Homo sapiens: one gene and its partners. The protein of the gene in region 1 purifies or fractionates together with the protein of each later gene. This does not show direct contact. Each region holds a gene or a part of one and is shown in the gene's direction. Other genes may lie near its edges. The genes, in order: MFSD2B, CR2, ARHGEF1, MARVELD2 and ENPP1.

What was found.
Region 2: the proteins of MFSD2B (region 1) and CR2 purify together in Homo sapiens (affinity purification with mass spectrometry; one large-scale study listed by BioGRID and IntAct). This does not show direct contact.
Region 3: the proteins of MFSD2B (region 1) and ARHGEF1 purify together in Homo sapiens (affinity purification with mass spectrometry; one large-scale study listed by BioGRID and IntAct). This does not show direct contact.
Region 4: the proteins of MFSD2B (region 1) and MARVELD2 purify together in Homo sapiens (affinity purification with mass spectrometry; one large-scale study listed by BioGRID and IntAct). This does not show direct contact.
Region 5: the proteins of MFSD2B (region 1) and ENPP1 purify together in Homo sapiens (affinity purification with mass spectrometry; one large-scale study listed by BioGRID and IntAct). This does not show direct contact.

What each region holds. Positions count from the first base shown.
Region 1 is NC_000002.12:24,013,070-24,016,587, forward strand, and holds part of MFSD2B (sphingosine-1-phosphate transporter MFSD2B), read left to right. Parts: intron 1-215; coding exon 216-341; intron 342-3,086; coding exon 3,087-3,211; intron 3,212-3,518.
Region 2 is NC_000001.11:207,460,814-207,464,331, forward strand, and holds part of CR2 (complement receptor type 2 isoform 1 precursor), read left to right. Parts: intron 1-3,518. UniProt on the Homo sapiens protein: Serves as a receptor for various ligands including complement component CD3d, HNRNPU OR IFNA1. When C3d is bound to antigens, attaches to C3d on B-cell surface and thereby facilitates the recognition and uptake of antigens by B-cells.
Region 3 is NC_000019.10:41,900,174-41,903,691, forward strand, and holds part of ARHGEF1 (rho guanine nucleotide exchange factor 1), read left to right. Parts: intron 1-1,713; coding exon 1,714-1,860; intron 1,861-2,100; coding exon 2,101-2,183; intron 2,184-2,359; coding exon 2,360-2,485; intron 2,486-2,610; coding exon 2,611-2,725; intron 2,726-3,133; coding exon 3,134-3,234; intron 3,235-3,482; coding exon of another isoform or gene 3,483-3,500; exon of another isoform or gene 3,501-3,518. UniProt on the Homo sapiens protein: Seems to play a role in the regulation of RhoA GTPase by guanine nucleotide-binding alpha-12 (GNA12) and alpha-13 (GNA13) subunits. Acts as a GTPase-activating protein (GAP) for GNA12 and GNA13, and as guanine nucleotide exchange factor (GEF) for RhoA GTPase.
Region 4 is NC_000005.10:69,418,099-69,421,616, forward strand, and holds part of MARVELD2 (MARVEL domain-containing protein 2), read left to right. Parts: intron 1-1,272; 5' UTR 1,273-1,287; coding exon 1,288-2,433; intron 2,434-3,518. UniProt on the Homo sapiens protein: Plays a role in the formation of tricellular tight junctions and of epithelial barriers.
Region 5 is NC_000006.12:131,891,505-131,895,022, forward strand, and holds part of ENPP1 (ectonucleotide pyrophosphatase/phosphodiesterase family member 1), read left to right. Parts: 3' UTR 1-3,518. UniProt on the Homo sapiens protein: Nucleotide pyrophosphatase that generates diphosphate (PPi) and functions in bone mineralization and soft tissue calcification by regulating pyrophosphate levels.

The sequences.
Region 1 (3,518 bases):
TCCCCCCTGGAAATGTTTAGAGGTCAGGGTTTAGGATCTTTTTTCTCTTCGTCTCACTTCCTCTTAGGATGACATGGGGGCAAAATGGGGCTGAGAGGTTGCTGGAAAAGCCCTGAAGACATCACAGAGACTCAGGATGTTTACTGAAGTCATGGGGTGTGGGGACCTGTTTTGTGTCTGTTGGGAGAAGGGCTTAGTTCCTGTGTCTCCTCCAGGACAGCAGAGCCGGTCGCCTCTCATTCTGTACAAAGGTGTGCTATGGCATTGGTGGGGTCCCCAACCAGATAGCCTCCAGCGCCACAGCCTTTTACCTGCAGCTTTTCCTGCTTGATATAGCACAGGTAAGTGTGGGCAGTAGCCCAGTCTCTGCTGGCATCTTCCTTGGGGTCTGGTCCTTCCACCCCCACCTCTGCTTCTGCTCCCACTATCCTTGTAGACAGCACTTCTGACACGAGCTCAACAAAAAGCCAGAAGCCAATGAGGGCAAGGTACTCAAGAATGTTTACTGCAGCCTGTTTGTAGTGGGAAAATGAGAAACAATGTAGATCCCCGACAATATAGAAGCAGTTGGCTAAGTAAGCTGTATCATAGCCACATAATAGACCAAGCCTGTCCAACCCGCGGCGGGACGGCTTTGAATGCGGCCCCACACAAATTTGTAAACTTTCTTAAAACAGTATGAATTTTTTTGTTTTTTTTTTTTTTTAGCTCATTAGCTATCATTAGTGTTAGTGTATTTTATGTGTTTATATGTGGCCCAAGACGATTCTTTTTTTTTTTTTTTTTTTGAGACAGAGTCTCACTCTGTTGCCCAGGCTGGAGTGCAGTGGTGTGATCTTGGGGCTCACTGCAACCTCTGCCTCCCAGGTTCAAGCGATTCTCATGCCTCAGCCTCCCGAGTAGCTGGGATCACAGGTGCACACCACCACACTCGGCTAATTTGTTGTTTGTTTTTTTTTTTGAGATGGAGTCTCGCTCTGTCACCCAGGCTGGAGTGCAATGGCATGATCTCGGCTCACTGCAACCTCTGCCTCCCGGGTTTAGCAATTCTCCTGCCTCAGCCTCCAGAGTAGCTGGGATTACAGGTGTGTGCCATCATGCCTGGCTAATTTTTTGTATTTTTAGTAGAGACAACAGTTTCACCATGCTGGCCAGGCTGGTCTTGAACTCCTGACCTCGTGATCCACCCACCTCAGCCTCCCAAAGTGCTGGGATTATAGACGTGGACCACCGCGCCCAGTCTACAGCTAATTTTTGTGTTTTTAGTAGAGACGGGGTTTCGCCATGTTGGCCAGGCTGGTCTCGAACTCCTGATCTCAGGTGTTCCATCCACCACAGCTTCCCAAAGTGCTGGGATTACAGGCGTGAGCCACCGTGCCTGGCCAAGACAATTCTTCTTCTTCCAGTGTGGCCCACAGAAGTCAACAGACTACACTAACATCACTATCAAATAGACTATCATGCAGCCATTCAAAATAATGATCTATACCAGTTGACTTAGAGTGATTTCCATGATGCTCTGGTGAAAAAGAAAAGTTAGTTTTAGAGAAGAGTATATAAAATGATCCCATTTTAACAAAACAAAGACAGGCTCCATATGTGTGTGTGTGGATGGATATGTATATATACATATGTATCTGTCCATGTTTAAAATGTGAGCATGGAGAAAATTCTAGAAGGATATACACCAACTCGTTAATGTTGGCTACCGGAGGGAATGATGGAGAATGGAGGGTAAGTAAAACCAAATTTTTAAAATGAGGTATCCAGCCGAGCATGGTGGCTCACAGCTGTAATCCCAGCACTTTGCGAGGCCGAGGAGGGAGGATCACTTGAGGTCAGGAGTTCAAGACCAGCTTGACCAATATGGTGAACCCCATTTCTACTAAATATACAAAAATTAGCCAGGCGTGGTGGCACACGCCTGTAGTCACAGCTACTCAGGAAGCTGAGGCAGGATAATTGCTTGAACCCAGGAGGTGGAGGTTGCAGTGAGCTAAGATTGCACCACCACATTCCAGCCTGGGCGACAGAGCAAGACTCCCTCTCAAAAACAAAACAAAAACCAACAACAAAAAAATGAGGTATCCAGCCGGGTATGGTGGCTCACACACCCAGCACTTTGGGAGGTCAAGGCGGGAGGACCGTCTAAGCTCAGGTGTTCAAGACCAGCCTGGGCAACATGGCAAAACTCCACCTCCACAAAAAAAAAAAAAATTTAAAAATACAAAAATTAGCTCGGTGTAGAGGAACGTGCCTGTGGTCTCAGCTACTTGGGAGGCTGAGGTGGGAGAATCACCTGAGCCCAAGAGGCAGTGGTTGCAGTGAGCCGAGATGGTGCCACTGCACTCCAGCCTGGGCAACAGAGCGAGGCCCTGTCTCAATTAAAAAATAAAATAAAATAATAAAATGAGGTATCCACGAATGTTTAAGATGACAGTCTGATATGATCCCATTTATATAAACTGATCAATCTCAAGCACACATGAAGAAGCCTATGAAAGGCTGATCATCCAAACGATTCTGGCAGTTGTCTTGGGATGCTGCGATTTCAGATGAGCTTTGCTTAGTATTTTCCTGCATAGTTTGAGTGTTTTTCTAATAAGTGTATTATTTACATAGTCAGAAAAAACAATGCATCCTTTCCATTGTGAAACACAGTGTCCACCTCTGTCAGCCCAGAGGCACCCTCCTTGCTCTGAGCCAGAATGTTTTTCTAATGAGTGTATTATTTACATAGTCAGAAAAACCAGTGAATCCTTTCCATTGTGAAACACAGTGTCCACCTCTGTCAGCCCAGAGGCACCCTCCTTGCTCTGAGCCAGCCCCAGATGAGGGCCCTGGAGTCCTCTCCGCAGTGGCTGACATGAGTACTAATGGGAGTGTGCAGGGCGGCAGCACTCAGCTCCCTCCCCTGGACTCAGCCCCGGGATCAGCATCCTGGGGAAGGCTGAGGAGCCCTTGACACTGTGGCTCTGCCCTCCGGTCCCGGTTCCCAGGCCTCCCTCTTGATGGCAAGCAGGCCTGGATGGGCTCTCTGCTGCTGCTGGGCCTCAGCTCTCTATCCCCTCCCCTGTCTGTTTCAGATCCCTGCCGCCCAGGTGTCACTTGTTCTGTTTGGGGGAAAAGTGTCTGGGGCGGCTGCTGACCCTGTGGCTGGGTTCTTCATCAACAGGAGCCAGAGGACAGGGTCTGGACGGCTCATGCCTTGGTGAGCAACCGCTCAGTCCTTAGGATCCAGGCACCTGGTCCTGGCCCTGAGGTCACTGTTTGTCACAGCCCTATTTCCTAGCAGAAACCCACTGGGTGGTTAGGAGACAAGACTGGATAATATCGCAGGTGCACTGGGGACTGACTGTGAGTGATAAGGAGTTCAGAGACATTCTTGGGGACTCTCCCTCCCCAGATGGCACGGGGCTGGATGAAGCCTCCAAGACTCCCAGGCCTGGCCTGGGGCACTGAGTGTGGGAAGGCTGGGCTGAAGGCCATGCGAGGCCTCACGGAGGAAGTACAGCTCA
Region 2 (3,518 bases), on another chromosome or scaffold:
TATCTAGTTCCCATCAGAAAGTATTTACTGAGTTCTCTTTGGTGGCATATTACTCTACTAGATTAACAGAATAAAATAATGAAGAATAATCAACATATTTTCTCCTCTCTAGGCATTAACGGTTTAATAGCTAAGATAGTTATGTAAATTCATTAAAGTAATTTTCAGGATCATATGTGTACTGAGCTTTTACAAGATCTCTTATATACTTTAGTTTCTTATGCTATCCTGGGAAAGTTTGTATTTAAAGATTTTTACCTTTTTGTCCCACAAATTCACAAATAGCGTACATTAGTTATGTGCAGTTTTTTTGTGTATAAATAAGACCTCATTGAAGCTGGGAAAAATATTAATATCCGCTCCCCCTACCACCCTTATAAAAAAAAATCAAAACATATGTAATCATCCTTCAAGGCCCTTGCCACATGCCTTTCCTGTTTTCCCCAGACTCTGACCTCACTGTGAAAAAACAAGCAAACAAACTAAAACCACTAATTTTTACTTGTAAGGGTGAAGGAGATGGAACAATTCTGAGGATTTTCTGAAATTTTATGAAAAATTACTTTCTCCATCTCTGAAGTCTACCCTAAAAATTCTCTGAACCTCTGAGCTTATTTCTGTGTATATTCACCCTTACTGCAATGATATGCATTCTTCATTCCATAAAATATTGCCCTATTTTAGACTTTCATTCTAAAGATCAAAGTTTTCAGGATAATTGGTAACAAGGCAGAAGCAGAGAAGAGGTTTTAGCCTCTCTTGGTTTTTATGTTTCTGTAGCCTTTGTCTCAGGTCCTCAGGTCAGGGTAAGTTTCTGCCAAGGTTTCCTTTTGCTAAGCCTAAAATTCAGAGTAACCAATCTTAAGTTTGCTGTTGAGATATCTTGCAAATACAAATGCTTTCTTGGGTATATCAAGAGGCATTCTTTGTCACCTCCCTAGAGATCTTCAAGTGGTCAGATGCTCAGCAGTTCTGTAAAGGTGAGTAATCCTGTAATAGAGGCATATTTGGGTCTGTCGCTGTATCTGGATGAGATAACATGTTATGTTTAAGATAAAAGACCAGTAAATTCACATGTCATCTCAAGTGAAGAGGGCTCCTGAGTGCTCCATGCTTCCTTTTACTCCTAGGGGCACTGGGTATGAGGGTTAAGTCATGATAGCTGGCCAAACCTATTCATCCTGTGATCTTTATGACTTTGATCTATGGTATCCATACTGTGTTAGGGTGAGGTTAGAAGTTAGAGACAAGAGATGTTAATATTACCTCATCCTCATCCCATTCAATTCAAAAAATACTTTTAAGTAACTACTAGATACTAAGCTCTAGACCAGACAGTGGGGCCTGGGAGTGACATAAAAATGAATCTGATAGTCTTTGCCTTTGAGAAACTCCTACACTAGTTGTAAAGGCCAACTCTTAAATATATATTGTACTATGAGGTAGTTCTCTTATTTAAGAAGTGCTATGAGGTCATAGAGAAATAAATCATAAATGCTACCTAGAAGAATTAGAGAACTATAGGCCCTCTGAGCAGAGGAAACAGCATTTGCAAAAGCATAAGTGTGCAAGAACATGATGTCTCTGGAAAAAATCAGTGTTGTTGGAGTATAGGCTACATAGTGAGGAATGGTAGTTGATTAAATGGATTGGAGCTTACTTGTAAAAAAATATATGCATTTTTTCCCTATAAACAGTGGTAAGTCATAGTAAGTTTTTAAATGTGCAGAGTGGCATGACCACATTTGTGTTTTAGAAAGATAAATGTGCAGTAGTATAGAAGGTGTACCAGCCCAAGGGAGAACAATTAGAAAAGTAAATTATGTCATTCAGTGATCCAATGAGAGACTACTGCAATGACAAAATAGTTGGTTTGGAGAGAGATTTCTGGAGTCCAGTCACTAAACTTCAGTAAGTAATTGAATGAAGAGAAGAGAGTAGAGGATGAGTTAGAGGATGAGTTACAAAAAGGAAATGATCACTGTGAGATTTTTAAGGCAGAAGACTTGGTAGATGATATCATAGATTAACAGAATATGTATAAAAATGGAAAATGAAGACTATAAGTTATAACTGACCACAAATAAAGTTGGCATCCATGCACAGAAATGCAGACTGTGTGCATTAAACAAGTAGTGTTCTAGAGTTGACTGATCCGTTGGAAAGTTTTGTAAATGTAAGAATTTCTGTGAGTAAACATAAGCAGGCCTGTCAGCAAGTCCAGTCAGGTTGAGATTTAATATAAAACACAAAAAGTCTCCAAAAAGTCTCCTGAATCCCAGCCTCAAATTCTGTTTGGGTTGATTTGGTTTTCTTTTGTAGATAAATCATGTGTGAGTCATAGAGAACTCCTTTAGGACTCTGTGATTACACACATGGGTATTGCATTTGGGTTGACAATGACATATTCTTGTAATAAAGGGTGAGTTGGCAGGAGACAGTTCCTGGGTACATGGATACCAGAACAGCAGTTCCAACCAGAAACCATCACTCTTCCAAAAGAGATCTGAGTAATTGCCACATACTTTTTAAAATAAATAAGCAAAAAGGAATCACCTCCCTGATCCACTCCAGAGACACTGCTTCAAGATTACCAGCTAGAGAGGATCCCTAGAAGAGAAGGAAGTTTTGGCTGCTCTCTTCCAGTTTTAAGTCTCCAGTGCTACTGACCAGGAGCTTGAATTTCATTTGGCTTTAAATTGTATGAGTCCTTAATCTGTCACCCCTGCTTGTCATAAATGATATTCTATTCTCTGCTATTCTTTCAGTAGAGAAAGAACTAAGTTTTTCTAAAATGTAAGTCTAGCTGGGAGATGATCACTCTTTATTTTTATTTTTATTTTAAGTTCTGGGGTACATGTGCAGGATGTGCAGTTTTGTTACAGGGTAAACGTGTGCCGCGAGATTTCTTATCTCTTTGTCTTTAGATATCTACTCTTTGGTGACTCATCTGCTACATGTATTATCTCAGACAATATTGTAACCTGGGATAATGACATGCCTTTTAATGAATGTAAGTAAAACAATCTCTTTATTGCACCCTATTTAATTCCTCTTGTCCCCTTCCAGAGGGAAATTGAGCATCTGCACACCAAAGTGAGTAGCCAGGAGGGTTTACACTTGGTTTGAGTAGCTCTAGGCACACAGCTATGACTTACCCATCTTCCTCATGGCCCCCAATCCTACCACACGTTCCTTTGTTTACTGTCCTTTGATTATAAGTTATTTCATAGTGAGTAAATGCTTACATCTAAAACATTCCAGGAGATTACACACTGCCAACTTTATTCCATGCAAAAAGTAAGCCACCCTAGGTCCCTTCTATAACAATTTATCTGTGGTCTGGGGCGGGGACTGGTGACCAGCTCATAGCTTTTCGGTTTTTATCAGCCAGTTCCATATATCTTTTGACCTTGCTACTTCCTATTTAGAATCATCTTTGAGATCAGGATACAGAATTTCAACAAAATAGGTAAATTGTAGGCTGAGTTGCAGTTTGGATTGCAAGAATGAAGAGA
Region 3 (3,518 bases), on another chromosome or scaffold:
ACATACAAAAATTAGCCAAGCATAGTGGCGCATGCCTGTAATCCCAGATACTCGAGAGAGTAAGCCAGGAGAATTGCTTGAACCCAGGAAGCAGGAGATGGAGGTTGCAATGAACCCAGATCACTCCACCACACTTCAATCTAGGTGACAGAGCAAGACTGTGTCTCAAAAAAAAAGCACTAAATACAACTGAGCACTGACTTAAAATTTCATTGCAATTAACGAAAATGTAAAGAGTTGTACACGGCTGGTGACTATCACGTTGGACAGGATAGCAATTTCTTTCCCCAGAAAGAATATGCATAATGTACAAAATCGTGCTTTTAGTCTCAGGGGACTTCTAGGGCCCCTGAAACTCACACATATGCCCTCCGGGGATGTGGGGGTCCCTGGATCTGAGGCTGTCAACCACTGTATAATGTGGCTTGATGGTTAGACACTAAACACAGCTGCAAGCTTGCTGGCAGGTGGGATGACTAGCTTGTCCCCATTTGCTCAGGATATTCACAGTTTTATCACTGAAAGCCCAGGCAGGCAAATGAGGACCATTGGTCACTCTGGCCAGCTGCCACAGCGAAAAGGGAAAGGCAGTGGGTTGAGGAATCCTCACTGGTTTTTTTTTTTTTTTTTTTTTTTTGAGACGATCTCGCTCTGTCGCCTAGGCTAGAGTGCAGTGGCGTGATCTCCGCTCACTGCAACCTCCACCTCCCAGGTTCAAGCGATTGTCCTGCCTCAGCCTCCCAAGTAGCTGGAACTACAGGTGCCCACCACCACTCCTGGCTAATTTTTGTATTTTTAGTAGAGATGGGGTTTCACCATGTTGGCCAGGATGGTCTTGATCTCTTGACCTCGTGATCTGCCCGCCTAAGCCTCCCAAATTGCTGGGATTACAGGCATGAGCCACTGCACCCGGCCCCTCAGTGGCTATTTAAGAGGGCAAATGACTCCACCCGGAGAGTTTTTTTTTTTATTTGTTTGTTTTGTTTTGTTTTTTTGAGACGGAGTCTCGTTCTGTCACCAGGCTGGAGTGCAGTGGTGTGATCTCAGCTCACTGCAACCTCTGTCTCCCGGGTTCAAGAGATTCTCCTGCCTCAGCCTCCCGAGTAGCTGGGACTACAAGAGTCCGCCCCCACACCTGGCTAATTTTTGTATTTTTTTAGTAGAGATGGGGTTTCACCATGTTGGCCAGGCTGGTCTTGAACTCCTGACCTTGTGATCCACCTGCCTCAGCCTCCCAAAATGCTGGGATTATAGGCATGAGCCACTGTGCCCAGCCATTTTGTTTTGAGACAAGGTCTCGCTCTGTTGCTTGAGCTGGGGTGCAGTAATGCCATCATAGCTCACTGCAGCCTCAACCTCCTGGGCTCAAGGGATCCTCCCACTTGAGCCTCCCAAGTAGCTGGGACTACAGGCACACACCAACATGCCTGGGCTAATTTTTTTTCTTTTTTAAATTTTTGGTAGAAACAGGGTTTCACCATGTTGCCCAGGCTGATCTTGGACTCCTGGGTTCAAGCAATCCTCTTGCCTTGGCCTCCCAAAGTGCTGGGATTACAAGTGTGAACCACCATGGCTAGCCAGAGAGAGTTTTTTCCCACCAACTTCTAGGAAGCTTTCCTCCCTGCTCTGCCTCATTCCTCTAGCCTGCCCATGAGGTCATGCCCCCTAGTCTGCACCCTCCCCAACATGCTTCCTGCTTTGGTGGCCCTGCAGAGCTGCTGGTGACAGAGGCGGCCCACGTGCGCATGCTGCGGGTGCTGCACGACCTCTTCTTCCAGCCCATGGCAGAATGCCTGTTCTTCCCCTTGGAGGAGCTGCAGAACATCTTCCCCAGCCTGGACGAGCTCATCGAGGTGCATTGTGAGTGCAGAGCCAGGGTCCCTCTGTGTACCCCACTGCCCCACGGGCAGCTCTGCTCTAGCCCTGGGTTCAACCTGCTCGGGAACCCCAGGGTTCACATGGGGTGGGGGCAGATACGCCATCCGGTCCCGAGGATCAGACACAGACACACCTGCAGCCCTACCCCCACCACACCGCAGCAGGCCCCGCACAGCATCTTCCAGACCCTGGTGGAGCATCCCTTTCCTCCTGCCCCCACAGCCCTGTTCCTCGATCGCCTGATGAAGCGGAGGCAGGAGAGTGGCTACCTCATCGAGGAGATCGGAGACGTGCTGCTGGCCCGGGTGAGATGCCCAGCCCTCCCGCTCCTCCCAGCTAGACACATGGAATTCAGGCCCGGGACGGGTCCTGAGCCCACCCTACTCCAGTCCCAGGGTCTGGGCTTCCAGCCTGTCGTACTTTAGTCCCTGTTCTTGCCCATCCCCACTGAGACACCTGCCTGGCCTGAATCTCGCTGTAGTTTGATGGTGCTGAGGGCTCCTGGTTCCAGAAAATCTCCTCCCGCTTCTGCAGCCGCCAGTCATTTGCCTTAGAGCAGCTCAAAGCCAAGCAACGCAAGGACCCTCGGTTCTGTGCCTTCGTGCAGGTGAGGTGGGGTCTGGACTCCAGCTTCCCAGGGAGGAGGGGCCTGGAGACCCAGACTCCTAGGTGCCTGCGCCCTGGGGTGAGCCCAAAGCCTGGGCCATCGCAACACCAGCATGTTTCCCGCAGGAAGCTGAGAGCCGCCCGCGGTGCCGCCGCCTGCAGCTGAAGGACATGATCCCCACGGAGATGCAGCGGCTGACCAAGTACCCCCTGCTCCTGCAGAGCATCGGGCAGAACACAGGTACCGCGGGCCTGGATCTCTGGGCCTCGGCTCTCCTCTTTTTTTTTTACATTTTTTTTCTCACTCATTTTCATCAGTGATACCATCACAGCTCACTGCAGCCTCAACCTCCCAGGATCTACCATCCTCCCACCTCAGCTCCCCAAGTAGCTGGGACCCCAAGGGCACACCACCATGCCCAGCTAATTTTTTTAGTTTTTTTTTTTAGAGACGGGGTCTCGCCATGTTGCCCAGGCTGGCTTTGAACTCCTGGTCTCAAGCTATCCTCCCGCCTCAGCCTCCCAAAGTGCTTGGATTACAGGCGTGAGCCACCATGCCCGGCCAGCTGTCCTTTGTCTAACCTTGGCTGCCCAATCTGGAGCCTCCAGGGCAGGGGTTCACCAGAGCTGCTCTCTCCCTTGCCTGCAGAAGAGCCCACAGAACGGGAGAAAGTGGAGCTGGCAGCCGAGTGCTGCCGGGAAATTCTACACCACGTCAACCAAGCCGTGCGTGACATGGAGGACCTGCTGGTGAGCCTGGGCTGGCCCCACACCCGGGACAGTGGATGGTGTGAGAGCAGGGGGTGGACCCTACCTCAGCCTGTCCAGAAGTCACACCCCACCCCTTGGCTTGTCTCCCTCAAGGGTCACTGTGTCCAGGGGTTGGCTTGGCCCTCAGCATCTCCCTCTCAGGGTCATTGGAGGTCAGGCCCAACCCTCAGCTTGCCCGCATCAGAAGTTGGTCTTGGCTCTCATCTTACCAATGTGGGTCACTGCAGGTCAGCCCCAGCACTTAGCTTGTCCCCATAATGCTC
Region 4 (3,518 bases), on another chromosome or scaffold:
CCCTGTCTTAAAAATATTAAATAAATAAAACAATAACAAAAAAGATGGGGTTATCCATTTTAATTTTGAGACCTTCATAGTATCAAGTACAATACCATGTGCCCAGTTTAAGTCTTCAATAATGAGTCTTGGCAGGGTGTGAATGAAAAAATTTTTTTAAGTCTTCAAACAAAATACTTATAAACAATTCGAGAGAGAAATTCAGCATACCTTAAAACTAGTAGTTAATTCACAAATGGTTTCCTTCTTTCTGTATATGGGTGCAGAGCATTGATTTCATGAATCAACAGGCTTAGTAAAAGTGCATTTTCTATGCTTTATTTTTGAGGTGGATTGAATACCTTCTGAGATACTTGAGTCTCTCCTTGGGAACAGTAAATCACCTGAATTGCCCTCGAAAGAGTAATAGTAATGGTCATTGCTGCCATTCTCTATTGTGCCTTGGGGGAGCCTTAGCCTTTGGTGATGTTGTCTCTGAGATTCAACTTTTTTACATCTAGTTTCAATTGTTAATATTTTAGACTGGAAGAAGCAAGTCCTCTAAAATGACTTTGTTGATTTAGGAAGGGGAAGGGCTGTGCATACCCTGTGTTTTAACAGACTGCCTCTCCTAGGCTATTCCAAGTGAAAATGAAGAATATTTGCTGACCCATCAAATTTCGCTACACTCAAACTCTTAGTATTTTGATTTAGATGTTTGAGGAAATGACTCTACTTGGGAGTGTGTTCGCGTTCTGTTGTGTTAAAGTTTTGTCACTTTTGTTTTTTATTTTATTGTTTAATAGGGCTCACAGATAAATTAGATTTATAAATCATTTTTCATTTCTTTTTTTTTTTCTTTTTTTTAGAGACAGAGACTCACTGTGTCAGCCAGGCTGGAGTGCAGTGGCGCAATCTCGACTCACTGCAACCTCTGCCTCCCGGGTTCAAGCGGTCTATACCTCAGCCACCTGAGTAGCTGGGATCACAGGCGCATGCCACAACGCCTGGCTAGTTTTTGTATTTTTAGTAGAGATAGTGTTTCACCATGTTGGTCAGGCTGGTCTCAAACTCCTGACCTGAAATGATCCGTCTGTCTTGGCCTCCCAAAGTGCTGGGATTACAGGCATGAGCCACCGTGCCCGGTATCATATTTATCATTTTTGTATATCATAATAATTAGACATGATCCTGTTGGTCTCCTAAATACTTTTTGCTACTACATGAATAAAATCAGCATCATTGAGAGGATAAGTAACTAATCATAAGTGATAACTTTAAATTTGGCCACAGGTGTGAAAATCACAAATGTCAAATGATGGAAGATCCAGGAATCGGGACAGGCGCTACGATGAGGTCCCAAGCGACCTGCCCTATCAAGATACCACCATAAGAACCCACCCAACTCTTCATGACAGTGAGCGGGCAGTGAGCGCTGATCCCTTGCCACCACCCCCTCTCCCATTACAGCCACCATTCGGCCCAGACTTCTACTCAAGTGACACAGAAGAACCAGCTATAGCGCCAGATCTCAAACCAGTAAGGCGCTTTGTCCCTGACTCCTGGAAGAACTTTTTCAGAGGGAAGAAAAAGGACCCCGAATGGGATAAGCCGGTGTCTGATATCAGGTACATCTCCGATGGAGTGGAGTGTTCACCACCAGCCTCTCCAGCAAGACCAAACCACCGTTCGCCCCTCAACTCCTGCAAAGATCCCTACGGAGGGTCAGAAGGAACCTTTAGTTCCCGGAAAGAGGCTGACGCAGTGTTTCCCCGGGATCCCTATGGATCTCTAGACCGACACACACAAACAGTTCGAACATACAGTGAGAAGGTGGAGGAGTATAACCTGAGATACTCCTACATGAAGTCGTGGGCAGGCCTGCTGAGAATACTGGGTGTGGTGGAGCTGCTTTTGGGGGCCGGTGTCTTTGCTTGTGTCACAGCTTACATTCACAAGGACAGTGAGTGGTACAACTTGTTTGGATATTCACAACCGTATGGCATGGGAGGCGTTGGTGGATTGGGCAGTATGTATGGGGGCTATTACTACACTGGCCCTAAGACCCCTTTTGTACTCGTGGTTGCTGGATTAGCTTGGATCACCACCATTATTATTCTGGTTCTTGGCATGTCCATGTATTACCGGACCATTCTTCTGGACTCTAATTGGTGGCCCCTAACTGAATTTGGAATTAACGTTGCCTTGTTTATTTTGTATATGGCCGCAGCCATAGTCTATGTGAATGATACCAACCGAGGTGGCCTCTGCTACTATCCGTTATTTAATACACCAGTGAATGCAGTGTTCTGCCGGGTAGAAGGAGGACAGATAGCTGCAATGATCTTCCTGTTTGTCACCATGATAGTTTATCTCATTAGTGCTTTGGTTTGCCTAAAGTTATGGAGGCATGAGGCAGCTCGGAGACATAGAGAATATATGGAACAACAGGAGGTAAGTGATTTCATAATCCCTCATTTGTGTGTGTATGTTTGTTTTTTCTGTTATTTGCTCCCTTGTTAAAAAATGTATAGCGCTCAAAACAGAAAGCTTTCATAGAAATCTTTTCTTTCTTCCTTTTTTTTTTTTTCAATGGTCTGAGATTCAAAAGTCCTAGTGCAATATCTGACATGCTTTGACTGGGATAACCCACTCTGGTGTTTGGCTGTTACATAACATTGCAAGTAGACACCAGATGTGTAATATATAGTTTGTTGGCTGCATTATTATGTCTGTCTGAAGCTTAAGGGAAAGATACAGCTACCGAATTTTTGCAAAGAAGAAGAGTGTACTCAGTAAAATAAGTGTCTCATCATTAAGTTTGAGAACAATCTTAATTCTTTAATAAAAGCTCCTAATTTTTCATTTAAATGTTACAATTTACTTTCTCCCAGTGAGTTGAATAAAGCCAAATAAGAATGTGGTAAACCATGTTTGATTTTTTTTAAGTATTGAGAGATTGAATTGTAATGAACATACTCTGAAAACTTGCCCAGTGGTTTTGATAATTTGTCTTTATTTGAGGAAGACGTATGGTCCAAAATGAGAATGGAAGTCCTACATTGTTTTTATATTTCTAGAACTTAATAGGATAATAATGAGAATAAATAATAATGAGAACAATAAGAAGAATAAAATAATAATAACTGAAGGATGAGATAAAAGCCCTACCTAAAATTATTTTGGTTGAACAGTAGCAAATGTTAGAGTATGTTCCACTGGCTACATTATTCTCTGAAGTAAGTTGATATTTTGCCTTCTTCCAAGGATATGTGTATAGTAGACTCTCCTATGCCACTGAAATTTTCAGTATTTACCTTAAAATTTTTTGTAATTTTAAGTTAACTATATTATGAATTTTTGCTTTTCCACTTTTCCTAAGACTTCTTAGATACTATACAATTGCACATGGTATATATTGGGCAAAACTATAAATAAAAATTAAATCCTGTCCTTATAACAGCACACACTGACATATGTATTTTGTTTTTAATCTTTTGCTTGAATCTGATGCATAGCAACAAATAGCGCTTTGGTTT
Region 5 (3,518 bases), on another chromosome or scaffold:
AAATGACACAATGAACTTGATTTCTTTACTACCTTGACTGTAGCTTTTTATCCCTACCTGTGAACCTTCAAAGACTGCATTAACTTTTAGGCTACATAGGTCCAATTGAGGTATAATATCAGTACACCAAAGATTTTTATATGTCCTTCGTGTGACCATTCTTCAACGGCCTAAGGGCCAGCTGCAAAGACTTTTGGAAAATACAATTTACAACTCAAAATTATTTAATAATTTAGGAAGTTGCTTTTTTTTTTTTTTTTTTTCAGTCCTGCAGTTTCCTGAAGCTCTGTATATGATATTTTTTTCAGCCTGCTTCTCTCTGTTGTTCAGATTAGGTAATTTTATTCTTCTGTCTCGAAGCTCACTGATTCTTTATTCTGTCTAATCTGTTCTGCTGTTGAGCCCATTTATTCCTGATTTTTATATTTTAGTTATTGTATGTTTTATTTCTAAAATTTCCATTCAGTTTTTCTTTATATCTTCTATTTGCTGAGAATTTCTGTCTCTTTGCTGAGACTTTCTACGTTTTCATTTGTTTCAAGTGCATTTATACTTGCTTGTTGAAGAATTTTTATGATGGCTGCTGTAAAATCCTTATCAGATAATTCCAACATCTGTCACCTCATTGTTTGCATCTACTGATGGTCTTTTTTCCATTCGGAAACATTTTCCTGTTTCTTGGTGTGTGGAATGATTTTTTATTGAAACCTGGATATTTTTAGGTATTATGTTATGAGACTATGGGTCTTATTTAAACCTTCTGCTTTAGCCAACTTTCTCAGATACCACCACAGCAGGGGAATTGGGAGCACTGCTTCATTATTACCAGGTGTGGCTAGGAGTCCAGGTTCCCCAGTCAGCCTCCCTTTATACTGAGTAACAGGGTCCCCTCATTACTACTGGGCAAGGTGAGAATTCAGTTTCCCATTAGGTCTTTATTGATTCTTCCCTGGCTGGAATGTGCAGCGGCACCTTTTGGTGCACCCTGGGAATCTCCACTAATGCTATGGGACAGAGTGACCAGGAAGAGCTTCATTACACCAGGTGGGAATGAAATTCCCAGTAGCCTACACAGCCTTCTCCGACACCACTCTGGAGTTGTATTCTTCCAGCACACAAACATACACAATTTAACTCAAAGCATCTTAGCAGAGCTTAATTAAATGGATAGATGCCTGTTCCCTTTGCTGGATACCAAGAATACAAAAGTCAGGGAGTTGGGGCACCTCTTTACAGCTTGGTGAGAGTGTAAGTCTGGACTCCCCACTCAGCATTTGCTGGTATGGGTGGGGCCATGGTGTTTTTCCATGGTGTTTGGTTGGAGTACAGCCTTTTTTACCCTTGCTTGGCTACCCTTTTCTGGTCCTTTGGCAGGAGAGAGCAGGACTCTCTTAGGGCTTTTTTTTCCCCTGCATTTATTGACATTTCCAGGTTGCTGACTTTTTCAGCTCCAAGTTGGAAATATATGAGCTGAAAAGAAAATGTAGGGAACTCATCACAGTGTTGTTACTTGGGCCCCAATGTTCCTAGCCTATTTTCTGTCTACTATTCAGAGTCTTGCTGTGTTTTAATATAATATCCAGGATTTTTATATGCATTTAGCAGAAGGATGTCTACTCTGCCTTTGTAGAAGTGTCTCACTGATTTTTACATATTTTTCCAGCACACAAACATACACAATTTAACTCAAAGCATCTTAGCAGAGCTTAATTAAATGGATAGATGTCTGTTCCCTTTGCTGGACGCCAAGAATACAAAAAAGAACAAGTGACAATTTTCTCTGTCTTAGGGAGAAGAGACAGCAGAAGTGTAAATGATCCCTAAAGAGTGATAGATGTTATCATGAAGCCACAGGAGGGGTGCCAGGCTGCACAAAAGAGACACTGGATGCTTCTTGGTAGTAGAGGCAGTGGCTTCCCAGCCTTGGGGCTAAGGCTTGTAGGGTGAATTGGAACTTTTCAGATGAGCAAGGCAAAGAAGGGACCTTCTAACATTCCTTGGATGGAACATTTTTGACATTTTCCCATTTACAGCTACTTATATTTTCTACAAGTGTCACTGTGACCAACTTATGTACACATACTTTTTCTTGCTTAGTTATAATAATCTGTTCTTAAAGAAAATGTCAGTCTCTACATTCTATGCTGACTGTTAAGGAAAGAGCACCCACATCTGCTCCTACTTAGCTTTTTTTCTGTGGTTCTTACACAGTATTCCTTTTTTTCTTTTCTTGAAAGAGACTCCTCCTTTCTTTTCTTTTCTTGAAAGAGTTTTAAACAGATAAGATGGCAAAAGTGACTGATCTCTACTCCCCCAGTTTGAATGGTAAATTTGAATGGTAAATTCCCATGAACATATATGGAAATGTCTTTATCCTACTTTCTCCAATAAAGGCTGTTCTTAGCTTTTCAAATGCAAAGTGAAACCTTTATTTATCTTGATTTCTTTTTTTTTTTTTTTTTTTTTTTTTTTTTTGAGATGCTCTGTCACCCAGGCTGGAGTGCAGTGGCAAGATCTTGGCTCACTGCAAGCTCCGCCTCCCAGGTTCACGCCATTCTCCTGGCTCAGCCTCCCGAGTAACTGGGACTACAGGCACCTGCCGTCACGCCTGGCTAATTTTTTGTATTTTTAGTAGAGAATGGAGTTTCACCGTGTTAGCCAGGATGGTCTCGATCTCCTGACCTTGTGATCTGCCCGCCTCGGCCTCCCAAAGTGCTGGGATTACAGGCTCGAGCCACTGCCTCCAGCCTATCCTGATTTCTACTGTCATGCCTCACATCAGTCCTTTTTTTTTTTTTTGAGACAGAGTCTCGCTCTGTGGCCCAGGCTAGACTGCAGTGGCATGATCTCGGCTCACTGCAACCTCCACCTCCGGGGTTCTAGCAATTCTCCTGCCTCAGCCTCCTGAGTAGCTGGGATTATAGGCGCATGCCACACCTGGCTTTTTGTATTTTAGTGGAGATGGGGTTTCACTGTGTTGCTCAGGCTGGTCTTGATCTCCTGAGCTCAGACAATCCCCCCGCCTTGGCCTCCCAAAGTGCTAGGATTATAGGCGAGAGCTGCTGTGTGCTTCTTAAGTGAGGTAAGTAACTTCCATAGAAAATTTCCATCAGTTCATTCATGAAAGAACAAAGAACCTGGCAAAACTTAAAAAAACGTTTCCAAGAATCAGATAAAAGAGGACAAACCTTAGGGAGAAGAAGGCAGCTGCTCATTTCCAGCAGGGGAAGTAGCTGCATAGAGTACAAGGACTGGTAGGCCTGTTGGCTGTTCCTGTTTAAGGAGACAAGATGGGCATGGAACAGGGACCACCCCCTCCTCTGGGAGAAGCTGTTACCCCCTTCACTTTTCCTCCTCTGTCATTACCCACAATCACTCTCCTTCTTTGCGCTATGGTAGGTGTTTACCCATCATAGGAATGGGCATTTGAACTTTGAAACTGAATGTGGTGATTACACTTCATGCTGAAGCTTTTCACATGAGTGCTTTCATAAGCATTAAGTAAAATTTTATAATGA